Regions from separate parts of the Homo sapiens genome. Here all the other regions are linked to region 2. Evidence: fine-mapped expression QTL. A gene starts in region 2. Each other region holds a variant in brackets. All regions are shown on one strand. Distances are from middle to middle.

Region 1 (5,151 bases), 59 kb after region 2:
TTTCAAACCGAGATTCAATCGAATTTGTGCCCGAAAAGTAGTGATAAATGAATTTTTTTTTTTTTGAGACAGAATCTCTTTCTGACACCCAAGCTGGAGTGCAGTGGCGCGATCTCAGCTCACTGCAAGTTCCGCCTCCGGGGTTCATGCCATTCTCCTGCCTCAGCCTCCTGAGTAGCTGGGACTACAGGCGCCCGCCACCACGCCTGGCTAATTTTTTGTATTTTTAGTAGAGACAGGGTTTCACCATGTTAGCTAGGATGGTCTGGATCTTCTGACCTCGTGATCCGCCCACCTCAGCCTCCCAAAGTGCTGGAATTACAGGCGTGAGCCTCTGCGCCTGGCCTTCTTTTTGAGATGGAGTCTTGCTCTGTTCCCCAGGCTGCAGTGCGGTGGCACAATCTCAGCTCATTACAACCTCCGCCTCCTGGATTCAAGTAATTCTCCTGCCTCAGCCTCCCAAGTAGCTGGGATTACAGGTGTGTGCCACCACACCCAGCTAATTTTTGTATCTTTTAGTAGAGACAGAATTTCCTTAGAGTGGATTCTAGTCATTGCAGATCATGAAGCACAACATTGACAAGTTTGACATTACAGACCATGAAGCCTGGCATTATGTATGATACTAATGTTTCTTTGAGAAAACCAGTATGGATTCACTAATGCCAAACTAACTAATAGGATTACCATAGTGGTAGATGGATAGGCCCCTTAGACAGTCTAGCTTGGTTTCTCACTTTATAGTGGTTGAGAAAGTTTCTTTTCAGGAAGACAAGATGGAGAAATATGTGCTGGTGGGTATTTCAAAGAGAAAAACTAGTAGACAAAAAGTCTTACGCAAAGAGTAACTCGAAAGGCATGCATGCTCTCTTCTTGGATCCTTCAAAATTTTTATCAGAAATGGATGAAAATGTAGAGGGCTTGCTTATCACACTTGTGAGGGATTCAAAACTAGAAGGGGTAGCTTATTTGTTGAGTGAGTGAATCAGCAGTCAGAAAGACCTTGGAAGATTGAAACAGTGGGTAAAAACAAGTATTATCTTCTTTTTTTAATTTAAAAAACTTTTTTCGTTTGTTTTTATAAAGGGAACAAATGCGCCTTGTTTAAAAAAAGTGAGAACATAAAGTTCTGAAAAAGGAAGTTCTTAGTGAAAGCATGCTGACTTTTTGTAAAGTAAACATTTGCTAAATGCACGACCTTCTGATGTCATGCTTAATGGTCTGAAAAGACTGTCACAAATAGATCAAAGCATATACATTTAAATTTTGATACATACTGCCAAGTGACTCTTGAGAAAGACCGTATGCGTTTTCATCTCTGTCACCATTTAAATGCAGGTATCCATTCCCAAACATATTCAACGAGCTGCCTATCATTTACAGAACTCAGTCTGAGATACGGATATTTTACTGTTATTTAATTTTTACTTTTTAAATTACTATATCAAGTAAAGCTTAACTGAAATCTATTGCATTCAGTTTATAAATCAGTTGCACAGATTTAGCAAGCTAAGAGAGGTCTGGTTTGGAAAAGTCCTGGGAGTTTTAACCGACTACACACTTGATTATGGATGCAGTTTGCTGCCCTGTTACCAAAATACATTCAGTGGTGTCGGTGGAGTCAGTGCTGTCTGATGATATCTGGACTGTTGCTATTTCATGCCAACATTTATAAACTAGAAAGTATCCAGCAGATTCTTGTTAACTAAAGACTGTTGGGATAAAGAAAGACCTAGAAGCTATGCTGTGTCAGGAGTGGTTGAAGGAATGGTGTATATTTAACCAAGAAAAGAAAGCCTAGGTAGGTGTTCAAATTTGCAATGTTGTTTTGTGTAAGAGTGATTTGAGTTGTTAATGTTCATAAGAGAATAACTAAGACCAATCAATAGAAGTAACAGAAGGCAGATTTGGTTTGGCATTGAGATGGATGTACTTTCCAACTATTACAGCTGATCACAAATAAATTGTGCTGTTTTGCAAAGTGAGCACGTGATGCTGTGAGTACTTGACACTGGATGAATTGAAGCAGGCATTAAAGAGCTATCAGAAGCCGG[G/C]GGAGGGGATTCTTTTTAATTTTTAAAATATGATTTTTATGAAATGTTTCAAGAATGAAAATGCAGCAAATAGTTTGCAGACTCCCATGTATCTACCAATCAGATTTAACATTTTGATACTTGTCACATTTCCTTCCTCTTCACACAGATACAGGTGAAGTGTTTACTCCATCCCTGTCCTACTCTCCTTCTTTCCTCCTGAGATTGGTATGGTGCCTTATTGTTTGTATTTTGTATTTTTTACTACCTGTGTATGTATACCTACATAATACACAGTATTATTTTGAGTTCTCTATCTCTTTTTGCAAAATTCTTTTTACATTCAATATTATTTTTTAAGATTTACTATGTTAATGCACATAGATCTACTTCATTACTTTTAACTTTTATATGTAAATACATGACTATATTCATTTCTCTGTGAAATAATTTTAGGCTGTTTTCAGTTTTTGTTTTCTGTTACAATCAGTCCTACATTAAATATGCTTTTATGTGTTAGGATAGATTTATCCTTGGGAAGAGGATTAAACTGGATGGCTTAATGTCCCTCCCAACCCTATGGTGCAAAATTTAGTCAACTGAACCAACATTTTCTAGTTTCTGAGGATAAAAAGCATATGACATGATCCCTGCTCAAGGAATTCACTGTCTAAAGTCTCTGCAAACTTTGTATTACTTGTTTGTTGTCTCATTTTTAGGCATCTATAAAGGTTAGCTGGTTTAGACAATCAATTACCTTTATGATATTGGGGCATAGCATGGGATAACTATAGTTTTTGGCATAATTTTCAACCTTAAGTTTCAGTGTTAACTAATAATTTTTGATGAGATGATTTATGTGTCCAAGAACATTTGAAATTATTTCTTTTCTAGACTTGCTTTGTCCACTTGTTATTTATATTAAAGTATTTCCTGTTTTACGCTTTCTATTGAACCTTGCTCATTAAGATTAATAAATGCTACTTATGGTATATTTCTGTGTGCTTTTGTGTCTGTGTATATTGTGTTTTTAGGAAAAAGGCTCAGCTCAAGAAAAAAAGAGGTGTGCCTCAGATTAATGAACAAATGCTGTTTCATGGTACCAGCAGTGAATTTGTGGAAGCAATCTGCATTCATAACTTTGATTGGAGAATAAATGGTATACATGGTGCTGTCTTTGGAAAAGGTAATTATCAGAATTCCAGGTCCAATTTGAGCCCCAGGAGAGAGTTTCCTCTTTTTAGAGGAATATAAATATAAATATGAACTGCTTTATGGCAAATATATAGAGAATGATAAAACAAATGGATTATAATTGCATTGTGTACGAGAATAGATACTAGTGTTTTTGTTTTATTTTGTTTTTAAGAAAATCATAGGTAAGAATATTAGTGAGCAATAAGGAATAGTGGGGGAAAACTTCACGTTATTTATAATGTTGTGAAAATCCAAGTTTTTCAATTTATGTCTGGTACTCAGGCAAATTAAGGAGAGAGGTGAGGGGAAAAGGTATGGGATGTACATTTAATTTTCTGGTCCTTACTTTGTACCTTGCTTCCAGCAAGAGAACTGACTACTGTTTAGGATCAGGATATGCTGCATTTTGAAAATGTAAATTAATTTAAAAAATAACTACTAAAAAGGCCATTCCACTTATTTAACTGTAAGGAGGTCAGAAGGTGTTACATAAATCCCATCAGTGTTAGGTAAATATGAGACTTTGCAATTCATTTCCACATTTTTTTAGAGTAAGAATGCCCTTAATGATGTCTATCTCTTGTGTCTACCATTTCAGAAGAGTTGGCTGCTTTATCGAGTTTTCATGTGTAGGCAGTGAGCCAGTAAAATCATTTTTGTTTTGGAATGCTCAGATATGAATAGCATTATACTCTCTCAGAAATCTTTTCATGGATATGGGATTCTATTGTTTCCAGAAATATTACTGAATTGTTATCCCATATCATAGAAATACGGTTTCTTGGGGTTTAAAAGAATCCCTGTAGGCCATCGGTTTCCACTGTGCTCTCTAGAGCTTTGCTGGATGTTGACAAGGGAACAGGGTGAGGAAGTGGTGAAAGGAAATAGAAACGGGAGGGAGGGCCAAGCAGTAAAACTCAGGGCCGGGCATGGTGGCTCACGCCTGTAATCCCAGCAGTTTGGGAGGTCGAGGCAGGTGGATCACCTGAGGTCAAGAGTTCAAGATCAGCCTGGCCAACATGGTGAAACCCTGTCTCTACTAAAAAAATATAAAAATTAGTTGGGTGTGGTGGCACGCGCCTGTAATCCCAGCTACTCAGGAGGCTGAGGGAGGAGAATCGCTTGAACCTGGGAGGCGGAGGTTGCAGTGAGCTGAGATCGCGCCACTGCACTCCAGCTTGGGAGACAGAGCAAGACTCTGTCTCAAAAAAACAGAACAAAACAAAACTCAGGTCCAACCACACTTTTAATCATTAAACCAGTTTTATCTGTTTTATTAATTGTTTTCTTTGTAAGATTTATTTTAAAAACAGAAGTCTGATAGCTATATTTTGGTGGGGGCAGGGGATGGTGTTGGTGGTGAGGACTGGTCTGTACCAACAAATCTATTCCTATGGCAGTCTATACTACAGCTGTCCATAACAGATGGATTTCTATTCTTCTCTTAAAGATCTGCAGATGAGGAAATTCCACATCTATTTTTATTATACAATTCTATGCATCTATTCTCCTGACAAAATGTTTTTGCTTGTTTTTAATATATTCTTCGGAGTAATCTTGGCTTTTCTTGGTCCTCTTTGTTTAAGGAACCTATTTTGCTAGAGATGCTGCTTATTCCAGTCGTTTCTGCAAAGATGACATAAAGCATGGGAACACATTCCAAATTCATGGTGTCAGCTTGCAACAGCGGCATCTGTTTAGAACATATAAATCTATGTTTCTTGCTCGAGTGCTAATTGGAGATTACATAAACGGAGACTCCAAATACATGCGACCTCCTTCCAAAGACGGGAGCTATGTGAATTTATATGACAGCTGTGTGGATGATACCTGGAACCCAAAGATCTTTGTGGTTTTTGATGCCAACCAAATCTATCCTGAGTACTTGATAGACTTTCATTGATTTCACTTCCAAATCTCG
Region 2 (5,151 bases):
ATTTTAAGGAATTGTTCACTCAATATGTACTCAAACCAGTTGTGTTCTCTCCATCCCACTCTCCTACCACCAGCTCAGGCAACTCCACATCTTCAAGAAAACAAAGTATAGCTCCAGCCTCACAAAAGATTGAGGACCTGGCTCTAACCTTTCTAGTTAAACCTGCTTTGTAAAAATTCGCTTCCAACTTCAAGGAAGAGCTAGTTCCTAAATTACTTAAACTGCTACTGTTCATTCTTCAAGGCTAGCATTACTCTGATACCAAAACTTGTTACAGACAAGCACAAAAATCAGTAACAATGGACCAATTTTATTAATTATAAATACATTTTAATCCTAAATAAAAGATTAACAAATCAAACCCAGCATGGCTTTCATTTGATCAAAAAATAATAGAACATGACAAAGCAGAGTTTATTTCAGAAATGTAAGAATGTGTTGAACACTAGGAAATCAATGAGCATAATTCATTATATAAAAGAGTCAGAGTAAAAAACAAATATAGTGATAGAGGCTAAGAGACAGTTGGTAAAATTTTGCACTCTTTCCTGATTTAACAGCATGTAGTAAAACAGGATAGAAGAAAATTTCTTTAAAGATGATAGTGTATTTTCAGAACACCAACTAGCAGGCGCAGTGGCTCACGTCTGTAATCCCAGCACTTTGGGAGGCTGAGGCGGGTGGATCACCTGAGGTCAGGAGTTCGAGACCAACCTGGCCAACATGGTGAAACTCCATCTCTTCTAAAAATACAAAATTAGCCAGGCATGATGGCATGTGCCTGTAGTCCCAGCTACCCGGGAGGCTGAGGCAGGAGAATTGCTGGAACCCAGGAGGCAGAGGTGGCAGTAAGTCCAGATTGTGCCACTGTATTCCAGCCTGGGCGACACAGCGAGACTCCAGCTCAAAAAAAAAAAAAAAGAATACCAACTAGCACTAGCACCAAATGGGCACATGCTTGCCTTACTGCATTAAAGCTGGATATCCATTATCTTGTCCTGTAGTCTTAAACATTTTTCTGATGTTTTGACCAATGCAATAGGAAGAAAGAAACGCATTATTTGCAGGTGATAATGATTGTCTGTGTACAAATTCATAGAGATGAGCTGTCAAGCTATTAGAACTAACAAGACATTTTTTCATAGTGTGGTAGGATACAAGGTAAATAAACAAAAGTCAATAGCTTTCCTAAATTACAGCAATAAGAAATATCTCACTTACAAAAAAACTATAAAATATCTAGGAACAAACTTCCCAAGGATTATGCAAACCTATGTGATTTTTTTTTTTTTTTTACAGATGCTGATGCAGATCTGAAAAAAAATTGTTAATGCATCTAAAGATACAGAAAACAAGTATTTCTGAATGGAAAGACCCATGATATTGAAAATTTTGAAAAAGAAGAGAATTAGGAGAGGTTCCTTTATGAAAAGGCAAATATATTAAATATGTAATGATTATAACTGTGGCATATTTTAGGAATAAGCAGATAATTAATAGAGGAGAATGTTCAGAAACAGATATATACGTGTATGTATACCTATGTATATGTATATGCAAATTTAGGTTGTAATTAACAGTGGCACTTCAAAGTAGTGAGGAAAGAATATTCACTAAATGACATGGGGGCAACTGGTCAACCATTTGGCAAAAATAATCTCTTAGTAAACTATTTTATTTCCAGGAATTAATTCCAAGAAGTAAATGGACAAATGTGAAGAAATGCCTGTTGAAGGATTTTTTTGGGATAGTGAAAAATAGAAAACCACTCAAACGTCTATTCAGTAGATTATTTCAAATGTGTGTGTCTATTTGTGTGTACGTAGTATACGCATAAGTTATGGAATGCCATGAGTCTACTTTAAAATATGGCCGGGTGCAAGATGGCTCACACCTGTAATCCCAGCACTTTGGGAGGCCAAGGCAGGTGGATCACCTGGGGTCAGGAGTTCGAGACTGGCCTGGCCAACATGGCGAAAACCTGTCTCTACTAAAAATACAAAAATTCGCGGGACGTGGTGGCGCACATCTGTAATCCCAGCTACTCAGGAGCCTGAGGCACGGGAATCGCTTGAACTCGGGAGGCGGAGGTTGCAGTGAGCCAAAATGGCGCCACTGCGCTCCAGCCTGGGCGACAGAGCGAGGTTCTGCCTAAATAAATAAATAAAATGATGAAACAGATTTAAACTTAATGGAATGGAAGGATAGCCACATAATCTTTAAAGTGAAAAAAAAATCAGGTTCTAAATCTATAGGTATTCTTTGATTACATTTTTTTCAATGTGTAGAGGCATAGAAAAGTCCAGAAGGATCTATAATGAGCTGTTTAATTTTCATTTCCTATGGGGTAGATCCTTTGTTGCATGGAAGATTATTTCACTCTGTTAGCTCTCTTTACATCAGTAGGAATACATCCTCATGGTTTTAAACATCTTGAGGGAGCTTTCCTGACACTCTACTCTAGGTAAATATGCTCGCATAGCACTCTCTATTCACCATATTACCTATAAATCATATTGCACTTTTTAACTTTTCTAAACTACTTTTTGCTTTCTTTTCTAGATTATAAAATCTTGAGGGCAGGGATAGTATGTAAAGGTTCCCTTGTGAGCAAATAACCGTCACTTATTGAACTCTGTGTGCCAAATACTGTGCTAAATGCTTTCAATAATCTCACTCATAGGGAGATATTACTACCATCTCCATTTTGAGGATGAAGATATTGAAAGATTATGAAGTTTCTCCCAAATGCCATTGCCAGGCCTGTGTGACTCTTGGTCGTTACACGGTGATCAATAAAAATTTGTTTCATAGGAAAGAAATACAGCCAGCCGTGGCTTTAAGATCACTGGGTGATACAGTTGGACCAGAAACCCTTTAAACTCCTTCGTCAGACACAGACTCGCAAGCCCCGCCCAGGACGACCGCCCGCGCGCGTATGGATAAGCGTGCAGGGGCGGGGCGAGCTTGTAGGAGTGGGGCGGAGACAGATCTGACTGGCCAACGTCGGGCGGAAGTCGGGAGGTTGGGTGGTCTGTAAACGCTGGCTTGTGACAGGGAGGGGGAGGAGGAAGGCCTTCGTAAAGGTTGCATCTCCGTCCCTTCGCTCCCGGGGACCCGCGGGAAAAAAAAAAATCCAACACCCAGGCCCCGCGGCTAGCCCCTTCCCACAGGCTCTCTCCGCTCGATTTTGTCACCGTTATGTGGGAAGCGAATCCAGTGAGTAGCCGGGCGGGACGGGGCGGGCCCAGGGGGCGGGGTTGATGAGAGAGGGGCGGGAGGGGGTCACCGGAACTGCTTCCCCGCGCTCGCTTCAGTCTGGGTGTTGAGTTCCGGGACCGGAGTTCCCGGGCCTTTTGGCTTCTGTAGTCTGTACCTTTTTAAGCAGTGGAAGTGCCTGGGTGGATTCTCCAATGCTTTATTGTTTTCTTGTTACAATTATTTATTTTACTTCCCGTGATGTTTCAGCCTCATCCCTTCACCATTTGTTGTTGTTGTTGTTTTTGAGACGGAGTCTCGCACTGTTGTCCAGGCTGGAGTGCAGTGGCGTGATCTCGGCCCACCGCAACCTCCGTCTCCCGGGTTAAAGCGATTGTCGTGCCTCAGCCTCCCGACTGCCTTCACTGTTTTTTGAAACTTTGTGTTTTGCTTTCTAATTGGAGTAACTGGCCTTGGAACCTGTAGTCAGTCATTTGCCTCAGGTTTACCTGCCAGTCCCACCAGTCTAAAGCAAGGGAATTGGGACCCCCTTGTCTTGAATGGGCCTAAGAGGAGCCATCAGTTCTCCTTTTCCCTTCTTGGTGGACAGTCGTTTAAAACTTGGAGTATGGACTGTATGTTCTTAGATGTTTTCGTTCGGTGGACAAAGTGATCTGGAGCATTTCAACTGCAAGTCTGCCTTCTTCCTTGGCTGACTCTGGTATTTTCATTATGACTTCATGTGTCTTTGTCTACTTTGCTTTTATACATTTATTTATTTAAAGTGCAACGTAGGGGCCGAAAACTTTAGTACCTTTCCTCACCACCCATTGTAAGGATCACAGCCACCACTCCTTAAAACAGAAGATAGGTTAACAAGGTAAAAGCAGAGCAAATCTAATCAAAGTTTTACACCACCAGGCACTTCAGAGACCAGGGAGATCTCTATTTTTATGCGTAGGACCCATGAAGAATAGACAACTGTGTAAAAATGTGACTGGACAAAGGATATACTCTAATGTTAATAAACTGAGGAAGGAAGCCCAGCAAGGTCTGTTTGTTCAGATTCTTCTTGGCCTCTCTGTGTATCATTTCTTCCTCCTACGGAGGAGGAAGGTCCCTTCTGGAATGAGGGTCTTAGCGACCTACTATCAGGCAAGGTAGATTAGAGAATTTCTTTATGGCCAGTTCCTATAGACAATGGCAGGGAAAGCTTAATAGTTCCAGTTTTTATGGCTTGCTTTGTAGGAGAGGGATCCTAGTTTCTATCACTCACCTTGGGGAAGAATTCTGGTTTCTGTGACTCACTTCTGGGACGAAAGATGGGCAGGAGACAGAAGGGCAGGAGATCAGAGGGAGAGACTGCTTCCGAGGCTGCTTCTGAGGCCTTCCAATCTCTTTTAGTTCAAAGTATTCAGCATGCCAAAGTGTCATACTTCGGGGTAGTATTTTCTGAGCCCCAACACAACCCTCAGAGAGTGGGATCTATTTGCCAAGAGTATTCTTCTGTTGTTATGGTTGAAACTGCCTGGTAAGGTGGCAGATGTATGGTATTTAAAACTTAGGAGTTGACTGGAAAAATGGTAGAATCACATTTCAGCAAGTTGTTGGACTAAATACAGTCGTGCGCCTCCTAACAATGGGGATATGTTCTGAGAAGTTCATTGCTGGGTGATTTTTTTCATTGTGCCAACGTCATAGAGTGTACTTTCATAAGCCTGCTACACACCTAAGGCTATATGGAATAGCCTATTGCTCTTAACCTAGAAATCTGTACAGCATAGTATTGTACTGAATACTGTAGGCATTCGTAACACAATGGAAAGTATTTATGTATCTAAACATAGAAAAGATACAGTAAAATAAAGTGTTAACAATCTTTGGGACCACTTGTATATGCGATCCATGGTTGACTGAAAGCTTTTATGCAATGCATAATTGTGTATGAAACAT
Region 3 (5,151 bases), 280 kb after region 2:
AATGGCAGAGGGAACTTACTTTCTTGAAATTTAGGCAAGAGCAGGCCCAGCCTAGCTAGACACTAATAACCACAGAGTTCCATGATGCCTGCTGTCTCTGCTATACTGCTGCTACCTAGTTCAGTGCCTGGAGCCTATTAAGTATCCAATACTGGAATGTGTTGTGTCTGAGCCTTTGCTGAATATGGACTAATTGCTTCCAATGGGACGGGGACATTGGAGGCTCCAGGCCTGGAGCTCAGCACATCCACTACGGTTAGACACGTACTGAGGAGATCACCTGTCCTCGGGAAGTCAGACTTATGTTGGAAGTCACCAGACAACAAAATAGGAGTCTGGGTATAATATGCCACAGCCTGGCGGTCTAGGGAAATCTAGGTGCCCCCAGGTAGAGCTGTACTCAGAAACAAGATATCTAAAGAGATGCTAGTCAGGAACCCAGGCAGGTAGCAGGGGTCCTGAAAAATGTTTCTTCAGGAAGAGGGCTCCTAAAACCAGGCTGGGGCCGTCAGTGTGGTAGTGAGGGGATTTGCAAAAACAAGACAGAGTCCCCATACTATGTGAGATCAAGGAGATCAAGGCAGGGCACATGCCGGGTGATCAGAACTGCCCCTAGGCCAGGGACAGATTCCAGGCCAGGTGAACACGGTGCAGAGACGGGCCAAGATGTCTGGCTTAATTTCATGCCACTACTGAGGTCTGAAGTGAGGTGGAGTCTATAGGTGGGATTGCAGGTATGACGTCAAGGGGAGAGGGAGCCTTCGGAGATGGGTCCATGGAGGGCCTGGCTAAGGCCTCATTTCCGCCCACAGAGTTGACAGAGGCTTGGGTGTATCTAGGGTAGATGGCCTCCATGGGGTGGTTTTTATGAAAGTAAAAAAAATATTGGCATCTCCCAAGGAGCACAAATAGAAGAGGCTGGAGCCTGCAGGTCCTGGGTGGGGGGCAGGTGCTCATGGGCACATTCCATGGGATCAAGCAAGTGCTGGGTCAGCTGCCACTCTGTTACCAGCCACCCGCACCCTGCTCTCTCCAGGCAGGTCTCCGCCCTTGGAGCTTGTGGTTTAGGAGGGGAGAGAAACCATGCCTCCGTGGACTTCGGAACAAGCACAGAGTGGCCTCTGTACAGACAAGCCCAGATGCAATCACAAAAGAGGACCACATTTTGGGAGAAGGGAGTTGGGAATAGAAGGGCAAAGTTCCCCAGAGCAGGGGAAGAGTGACAGGCGAGAAAGTCTCTAAAGGGTTTTGTACAGCCTCAAAAATGTAAAAGAGGCAAAGAGTCGAGGAAAAAACAGGTTTTATCAGTGAAGTCATCTTTATAGCATCTCTGTTGTCATTCGAGACCGCATCTCATGCACTGACTTCCATTCAGAGGCTGTTCAAAGCAGAGATTGCTTATTTCCCACTGAATCGGAGGGAAATAATTCCCACTGGAGCATTCGCCTGAGCAGGTGGGAGGAGGCTGCTGTGGAATTGATCCCTTATGCATTACAGGCTTCCCTTCTGCAGCCCAGGGGCAGGGAGGGGTGGTGGTGGGGCAGCCCAGGGCTTGTACCACTCCAGAAAGCTAAAGATGGGGGTGGGTGCAGGATAGGCCCCTGGGATGGCCCTCTTCTCCTCTGATGGTCAGAGAGGCCCGAAAGATTGCTGGGCCTTTGCTCATTCTGGTCCTCCCCTAAGCCTCCTGCCCCAGCAGCCTCCCCAGGTCCCAGAGTGTCAGGGATGCCTGCAGGACCCAAATGCCTGGAGCTCCCAGGAGGCCATCATCTTGACCGCTCCACTGGGCTCCTGACAATGTGGGATTTTGCTGGTTGACCATGGATGGGATCCTACACCAGGTTGAATGAGCTTCCTGCCCAAAGTTAAACCAGGTCAGTAGGCAGAATCCAGGGGACCCCAACTCTCACTACAATGGAAACCAACTCCTGAGTTCTCGAATGCCCCCGAGGGAGTCCCCACTCCAATGTCCTCCTTCAATCTCCTCTCTCCTCTAATACACTTGCTTCTGTGCCCTCTTAAGTTTCTCTATTTTTCTTCCCAATACATGTACACAAAAAGCATTAAATAATTTTCACTGTGTTTTTCTCTAGGTATAAAAAAGACAGTCTTAGCCTCTGGGCCTGAGGCTTGGAAGAATCAGTGCAGGGCAGGGGAGGGCACATTAACTGGGACTTGAGACCTTGGCCCACCTCAGCTAGCAAATGGCTGGGGTAAGGCCTCTGCGTGTAACTCCCAAGGCTTCATGGAATTGACAGAGTCCATGGACATCAGAAGTTTATGGAAGTGCAGAGGCCATTGCTATTGGGTTCAGTTATCATTATCCAGGGGCTCTGCCATCACCAGCACTCCCCAACCACGCAAAGCCAGGCCCGAGGTCTCCCCTGCATCTTCCTTCTTCCTGGATCCCATCAGCTCCACCCATCATCTCTAAATGGCCCCTCTTCCTTCCCCCACCTGGAATGTCTCTTCCCAGGTAGGTGACATAGATGAGAATCATGGTCTTGGAAGCTAAAGCATAGCCCAAGACCAGACCAAATCAAAACACTCCACCACGCCCTGCAAAGTACATTGCATTTCCATCCTTCACAGATTCCGCTGTTACCACGCCC[G/A]GACCAAGGCTGGACATTATCCTAAGCAGTCTCCAGGCTATGCATGGCCTGCCATTCTGGCACACTCTTGGTTAGCTCCTGTCCCCCACCCCAGCTCCATGACCTCCTTACCCTCTAAGGTAGGACCCCTCAGAGTCCATGGGGGAGATGCTCTTAGACCAGCCCTGACCTCCCTGCTGGGGAGCAAACGTGAACCCACGTAGGTGCTGCTGCCCTTGAGTCTCCACTCCATCATGGCCTCTGGCTTCCCCCCAGCCCTCCCACTTCACAGCACCAGGAACCAGCCATCCCACCAGTTTGTTCTCATGTGTGTTTATTGAGCGCCCACGGAGTCCGTGGTACTATGCTCAAGGTTCAGAGCCACAGTCCAGTCAAAAGGAGACCAGAACTAGTACAGAGAATGTTTCATAGCTGCTTAACATCTGGTAAGGGGTGGGGAAGGGGCGAACTAATCACAAAACAAATTCCTATTCAAAAGCAACAGAATCTCCTCTGAGAGTAATATATATTCTAGGCACACGCGCACGCACACACACACACACCCCTCTGAGAGAACACCTAGGTCTACCCACTTGGTTGTATATGCACGCATATACAGGTGTTTGTGGGTAAATATCAACTATGCTGCTCACATTCACACATGCACGCACACGCACACCACCGCACACACAGATAATCTGGCTTATGCTATCAAAGATGCTATGTCTCCAGGTTCTAGTGGAAGCAATCTGTCCTAGACACCCGCAGCATGCAAAACTCAGAAGACCCGGAGAGTCACAGTTAAGGAGGAGACGGGGAGACGCGAATACGTTTCCACCCTCGGGGCCCAGCCACAGCACGCCAGGTCGCTCTTTGTTGGCAACACAAAGCCTTCGTGAAGGGCTACCAGGGCAGAGCGGAGGAGCTGGAGGCCTTCTGTCCAGTGGCAGAGCCCACGGGAGCCCTGGGGAGTTCACCAATCTTCAAGGCAGAGTTGAAAACTCTGGTTTTCAAGTGTGTAGTCCTGCAAACGGTATTCTTTGGGACGGCACGGCAGATCGAGGTGAGAGTTCCTTTTCTCGTTGCTCTCTGCAGCTTCCCACGTGTGCTAACGCATTTTGTAGTCATTAGATACAGATGTTTCACACAGCTGTCCCTTAAAATCCAAGTCTACTGTGAAATCGAGGTCTCGCTGCAAGGCAGAGAGAGAGCGAAGGGTCAGGCGGCCGTCTGGGTATGAAGCCACAGCCCCACTCTCTGGCACCACCTGCTCCTGGAACCACAGGGATGGGTAGCACCAGCGTCTTAAGGCTTTCTGGCTAAGGGGTTCCCCTGAACAGCCCACAGGAATCCATTCTGCTGCCTCCTTGTCCTCACAGGAAGTTCTTCCATTTCTCCCTAAATCCTTCCTGCTCTAATAACAAAACGTTCCGAGTTCGTCCTGGAAGTAAACTGATTGGGGTGGTTAAGTGTTCTGTGAGGTGACCTTCAGAGCACTCTGCAGACGTTTTTAGCGCTCATGCCCACACCTGGGGCTGCCCCGAAAGTGCCAGCAAGTCTCCCTCGCACCAGGCCAGCTGAAGAAATGCACGCCAAACATCCTCCAGCCACCAGGAGCTTATCTCCTGGCCCAGCTCTTACTAAATGAGGTAGGACCCATTTATTTGAAAGCCCCTCACAGGAAGAGCTGGAAGCTGTCTTCAAAGCCAAGGCAGTCCAGAATTGGACCCAGGGAAAACCTCTATTTGCGGAGTTTTGAGGGGTCAAGCCTGAGTCCCTCAATTAGGCCTAGTCATGTCCACATGTGGCTACCGACTGCCTGCCTCAGTAAGTTTCTGACTGTTCATGAGACACTTAAGAACCCGGGCAAGTGGGTCCTGAGCGAGCCAGCTCTGTGGGGCCCTTCTCCCTTATGTCCTTATGTCCCTCGGCACTTACCACATTTTTGGCATTTGGCTTCATGGATATGGTCCCGTAGATTTCCTCCCCCCTCCGGACAGTGAGGTAATCTTCCAAGTAGAAGACGGTCTGCTTCCAGTGGGTGTAGGGAGCATCAGGGGCTGAGGGGTGAGAGAACAGGGGAGGTGGGAAGAAAGAGTCAGAGACGAAGTCTCCAAAGGGATGAGGCTGGGACCCTGCATAGAAGTTGCTGGGCTTCCCCTGGGACTCACTGAAACCACCCACCCCAGTACTCTTGTTGGGTCAGGTGCATAGTCCTTATAGCCTTCCTCCAAGCCCCATCAGAACTCCCTCTCAGTCCCAGTGGCCTCTCCTCCCATCACATCCCCATCTCCTCAGTGCTGGGGATCAGAAGACAAACAACCCGATACTACAAGTTCATAGCAAGGGATGGATGAGGAATACCCTGTCACCCACTAAATGCATGGACATACATGCATCTGAACATGCTGCTGTTTTTAATTAGTTCAACAGAATGAAGATCTTCAGACAGTATGGGGAAGAGATTTGTAGAGTAGGCCCTCCTATCTCCCCTTAAATGACATCATTCATGCAAACTCCACAGCTAAACCAGTTTCCCCAGATCCACTGATATGGCAGG
Region 4 (5,151 bases), 24 kb after region 2:
TTTTACTCTTTTTTCTTTAAACTTCTTGCTTCATTTCATTCATTTGATCTTCAGTCACTGATACCCTTTCTTCCACTTGATTGAATCAGCTACTGAAGCTTGTGCATGCGTCACATAGTTCTTGTGCCATGGTTTTCAGCTCCATCAGGTCATTTAAGGTCTTCTCTTACACTGTTTGTTCTAGTTAGCCATTCGTCTAATCTTTTTTCAAGGTTTTTAGCTTCCTTGCGATGGGTTCAAACATCTTCCTTTAGCTCGGAGAAGTTTGTTATTACCAACCTTCTGAAGCCAACTTCTGTCAACTCGTCAAAGTCATTCTCCATCCAGCTTTGTTCCGTTGCTTGCAAGGAGCTGCGTTCCTTTGGAGGAGAAGAGGTGCTCTGGTTTTTAGAATTTTCAGCTTTTCTGCTCTGGTTTTTCCCCATCTTTGTGGTTTTATCTACCTTTGGTCTTTGATGACGGTGACCTATAGATGGGGTTTTGGTGTGAATATCCTTTTTGTTGGTGTTGATGCTATTCCTTTCTGTTTGTTAGTTTTCCTTCTAACAGTCAGGTTCCTCTGCTGCACGTCTGTTGGAGTTTGCTGGAGGTCCACTCCAGAACCTGTTTGCCTGGGTATCCCAGCGGAGGCTGCAGAACAGCAAATATTGCAGAACAGCAAATATTGCTGCCTGATCCTTCCTCAGGAAGCTTCGTCTCAGAGGGGCATCCGACTGTATGAGGTGTCAGTCGGCCCCTACTGGGAGGTGTCTCCCAGTTAAGCTACACGGGGGTCAGGGACCCACTTGAGGAGGCAGTCTGTCCATTCTTGGAGCTCAAACACTGTGCTGGGAGAACCACTGCTCTCTTCTGAGCTGTCAGACACGGACATTTAAGTCTGCAGAAGTTTCTGCTGCCTTTTGTTCAGCTATGCCCTGCCCCCAGAGGTGGAGTCTACAGAGGTAGGCAGGCCTCATTGAGTTGCGGTGGGCTCCACCCAGTTCAAGCTTCCTGGCCACTTTGTTTACCTACTCAAGCCTCAGCAATGGTGGAAACCCCTCCCCAAGCCAGGCTGCTGCCTTGCAGTTTGATCTCGGACTGCTGCGCTAGCAGTGAGCAAGGCTCTGTGGGCATGGGACCCGCTGAGCCAGGTGCGGGATATAATCTCCTGGTGTGCCATTTGCTAAGACTGTTGGTAAAGGGCAGTATTTGGGTAGCAGTGTCCCAGTTTTCCTGGTACAATCTGTCACGGCTTCCCTTGGCTAGGAAAGGGAAATCCCCCAATCCCTTGTGCTTCCTGGGTGAGGCGATGCCCTGCCCTTCTTCGGCTTGCCCTCTGTGGGCTGCACCCGCTGCCCAACCAGTCCCAATGACATGAACCAGGTACCTCAGTTGGAAATGCAGAAATCACCTGTCTTCTGTGTCAGTCACGCTGGGAGCTGTGGACCAGAGCTGTTCCTATTTGGCCATCTTGGAATGGACCCCCAATGCTGTATCTTTTCTTAAATTTCTGTAACATGCCTGTTGAGTATTCAGTATTCTTTTCAATTTTCAGTTCATCATGATCTTTGATTATTTCATGATCAGCATACTATTAAGTGGCATGGATTCTCTGTGATGCTGATGGACTATCCTTTCAATACATGAACAAGATTTTGTTTTTAGCTTTATGTAGGATTTTTCCATTTTTATTAACTTCTGTTCATTACTTTCAACATAGAACTTTCATAGTTGGTCCTTCTCTTTCTTCAGATCATATATATAGTGGTCATTTCAACACCATACTCTTCTGTAAGATATTTCAGACTTAACATTGCTGTCCAGTTGCTATAACAGCTTGACTTTCTGTTTTGTAGATAAATATAAATGCTTTCCTTTTTTTCTTATCACTGTTATCCACAGTGATATCTGCAGGCCTTTCTGACCTTGTCAACAGTATCTTTATACTGCAGAGCAGAGAATAAGAAAAAAACACAGTAATGCACATAGATATTGGCCTCTTGTGGGGCATTGTGAGGAACCTGCCATTGGCGTATCCAGCCTGTACATATACCATTTTATTACCCTTTGTGGACATGCTTGCGTGGGGGAATCTGGACATGTGAGGAAAATATATATTACAGCTGAAAGGGCCTGGGAAAGTCTTTTTTCCCTTGAATAAACTGTATATTATACTCTCTCATTTTGACTGTGACCCATCACATGAAGTCAGGAGTAGAATTTTCCACTTGTGGCCTTATGTAAAGTCTCAAAAAGTTTTGGATTTTGGAGGAATTCTGATTTCAGATTTTTGGATTAGGGGTGTTCGAACTGATATAATTATGCTATATATATTATGTCTATATATGTTACCAACCCAACTATACATTTTTATTATTACTTTACATAATTATATGTCTTTTAAGGAAGCTGATAGAAAAAAGGGGAGAACAAGTATGTAGCATCTATATTTAATTTATTACATATACCATCTTATTTACTGTGATTCTTCTTGTGGATTTGAGTTACCATATGGTGTTATTTCCTTCTCCAATATAGCTTTGTTCCCACCTGCCTTCTTGATGCTGCTATTGTATATTTAACAGTTCTGTATATTATAGGCATAATGATATGTATTTAATTAAATACATATTTAAAATTAAATACATATTTAAAAAGTTGATACATAATCGATATACATATTTTCAGGACATGTGATAATTTAATAAATTCACATAAAATTTACATATGAAATCAGGGTAATAGGATATCTATCACCTTAAATACTTGTCTTCTTTATGCTAGAAACCATTCAAACTATTCCCTTCTAGCTATTTTGAAATGTACAATAGATTATTGTAAACTACAGTCACCCTACTGATCTATTGAACACTAGGTCTTATCACTTCTAGGTCTTATTTCTTATATCTAACTGTATATTTATACCCATTAATCAACCTCTTTTAATCAGTCTCTCCCCCTGCCCTTCCCAGCCTCTGGTAACCACCAATCTACTTTGTCTCTTCATGAGTTCCACTTATTTAGCTCCTACATATGAATGAGAACAGGTGATATTTGTCTTTCCGTGCT[T/C]GGCTTATTTTACTTGACATAACGAATTCTCATTTCATCCATGTTGCTGCCAATGTCATGACTCCATTCTTTTTTACAGCTCGATAATCCATTGTGTATATAAACCACATTTTCTTTATCCATTCATCCATGGATGGATACTTAGGTTGATTCCCTATCTTGGCTATTATGTATCATTCTGCAATAAACATGGGAGTGCAGATATCCCTTCAGTGTACTGATTTTTTTTCTTTTAGGTATATACTCAGTCGTGGAGTTGCTGGATAATATGGTAGTTCTATTTTTTTTTGAGGTACCTCCATAATTTTCCATGGTGACTGTTCTTATTTACATTCCCACCAACAGTGAACGAGGGTTCCATTTTCTCCACATCCTTGCTAGCATTCGTTATTCTTTGTCTTTTTATAAAAGCTATTTTAACTGAGGTGAGATGATGTCTCATTGTGGTTTTGGTTTGCATTTCTCTGAAAATTAGTGATTTTGAGCATTTTCTCATATACCTGTTGGCAATTTGTATGTCTTTTGAGAAATATCTATTCAGGTCTTTTGCCCATTTTTAAATTGGATTATTTGTGTTTTTTTTTTTCTTTTGCTGTTGAATTGTTTGAGCTCCTTATATATTATTATTATGAATCCATTGTCACATTGATAGTTTGCACATATTTTCTCCCATTCTGTGACTTGTTTCTTCACTTTGTTGATTGTTTCCTTTGTTGTGTAGACTCTTTTTAGTTTGATGTAATTCCAGTGATCCATTTTTGCTTTGGTTGCAGTGCTTTTGAGGTCTCACACAAAAAATCTTGCCCAGACCAATGTTCTTATTTCCCCAGTGTTTTCTTCTAGTAGTTTCATAGTTTCAGATCTTAGATTTAAGTCTTTAATTCATTTTGATTTGATTTTTTAATGTGGTTAGAGATAGTGGTATAGTTTTATTCTTCTGCGAATTAGATAGTCTTTATTCAGTTTTCCCAGCACCATTTATTGAAGAGACTGTTCCCATTCTATGTTCGTGGTGACTTTGTTGAAATGAGTTAGCTGTAAATGTGTGGATTTATATCTGGGTTCTCTATTCTGTTCCATTGGTCTATGTGTCTTTTTATGCAAGTATCGTGCTGATTTGATTACTATAGCTTTGTAGTATATTTTGAAGTCAGGTAATGTGAGGCCTCTAGCCTTATTTTTGCTCAAGATTGCTTTGGCTATTCAGGGTCTTTTGTGGTTCTATATAAATTTTAGGATTTTTTGCGTTTGTTTATTTCTGTGAAGAATGTCATGGTATTTTGATAGGGATTATGTTGAACCTGTAAATTGCTTTGGGCAGTATTGTCATTTTAACAATATTAATTGTTTCAATTCATGAGCATGGAATATCTTTCCATTTTTATGTCTTTAATTTCTTTCATAAGCATTTTATAGTTTTTCCTGTATAGATCTTTCATTTTAGTTAAATTGACTCGTATGTATTTTATATTCTTTGTAGCTATTGTAAATTGAATTGCTTTCTTGATTTCTTTTTTAGATTGTTTGCTCTTGGCATGTATAAATGCTACTAATTTTTGTATGTTGATTTTGTAACCTGCAGTTTTACTGAATTTATCAGTTCTAATAATTTTTGGTGGAGTTTTTAGGTTTCTTTAAGAATAGGATTATGTCTTCTGTCAACAAAGGAAATTTAACTTCTTTCTCTCCAATTTGGTTGCCATTTATTTCTCTTTCTTGCCTAACTCTTGCCAGGACTTCCAATATCATGTTGAGTAACAGTAGTGAAACTGGACATCTTTGTCTTGTTCAAGATCTTAGAAGAAAGGCTTTTAATTTTTTCCCATTTAGTGTGATACTAGCTGTGGGTTTGTCATCTGGCCTTTATTATTTTGAGATACGTTTCTTCTATATCCAGTTTGTTGAGGGTTTTTATTATAAGAAGATGTTGAATTTTATCAAATGCTTTTAAAGCATCTATTAAAATGATTATATGGTTTTTCTTCTTGGTTCTCTGTTGTTGTGATCTGTCATGTTGATTGATTTGCATATGTTGAACCATCCTTGCATCCTTGGGATGTGAATCCCACTTGATCATGGTGAATGATTTTTTTAATGTGTTGT

Evidence for each region. PIP is the estimated chance that this variant, and not a neighbour inherited with it, causes the effect.
Region 1: its variant is fine-mapped to the expression of PARP11 in cerebellar hemisphere (GTEx, PIP above 0.99).
Region 3: its variant is fine-mapped to the expression of PARP11 in uterus (GTEx, PIP 0.98).
Region 4: its variant is fine-mapped to the expression of PARP11 in tibial nerve (GTEx, PIP above 0.99).

Annotation. Positions count from the first base shown.
Region 1 is chr12:3,812,105-3,817,255 of GRCh38, reverse strand. PARP11 (poly(ADP-ribose) polymerase family member 11) reads left to right here. Exons shown (of 8, transcript NM_020367.6): 7 at 3,068-3,219; 8 at 4,817-5,151. The coding sequence ends at 5,133. Among named protein-coding and RNA genes, the nearest start is that of PARP11-AS1, 55 kb to the left of the region's middle. The variant G/C (reference allele first, on the strand shown) is at 2,055.
Region 2 is chr12:3,871,280-3,876,430 of GRCh38, reverse strand. It overlaps PARP11 (poly(ADP-ribose) polymerase family member 11), which reads left to right and starts at 3,032. Exons shown (of 8, transcript NM_020367.6): 1 at 3,032-3,219. The coding sequence starts at 3,202. PARP11-AS1 (PARP11 antisense RNA 1) reads right to left here. Exons shown (of 2, transcript NR_183432.1): 1 at 4,475-5,151. RefSeq lists enhancers at 1,543-2,062, 2,063-2,583 and a silencer at 3,255-3,364.
Region 3 is chr12:3,591,731-3,596,881 of GRCh38, reverse strand. It overlaps PRMT8 (protein arginine methyltransferase 8), which reads right to left. Exons shown (of 10, transcript NM_019854.5): 9 at 4,530-4,651; 10 at 2,909-3,783. The coding sequence ends at 3,700. Among named protein-coding and RNA genes, the nearest start is that of THCAT155, 100 kb to the right of the region's middle. The variant G/A (reference allele first, on the strand shown) is at 2,613.
Region 4 is chr12:3,847,445-3,852,595 of GRCh38, reverse strand. The region is part of intron 1 of PARP11 (poly(ADP-ribose) polymerase family member 11); the gene reads left to right. Among named protein-coding and RNA genes, the nearest start is that of PARP11-AS1, 20 kb to the left of the region's middle. The variant T/C (reference allele first, on the strand shown) is at 3,049.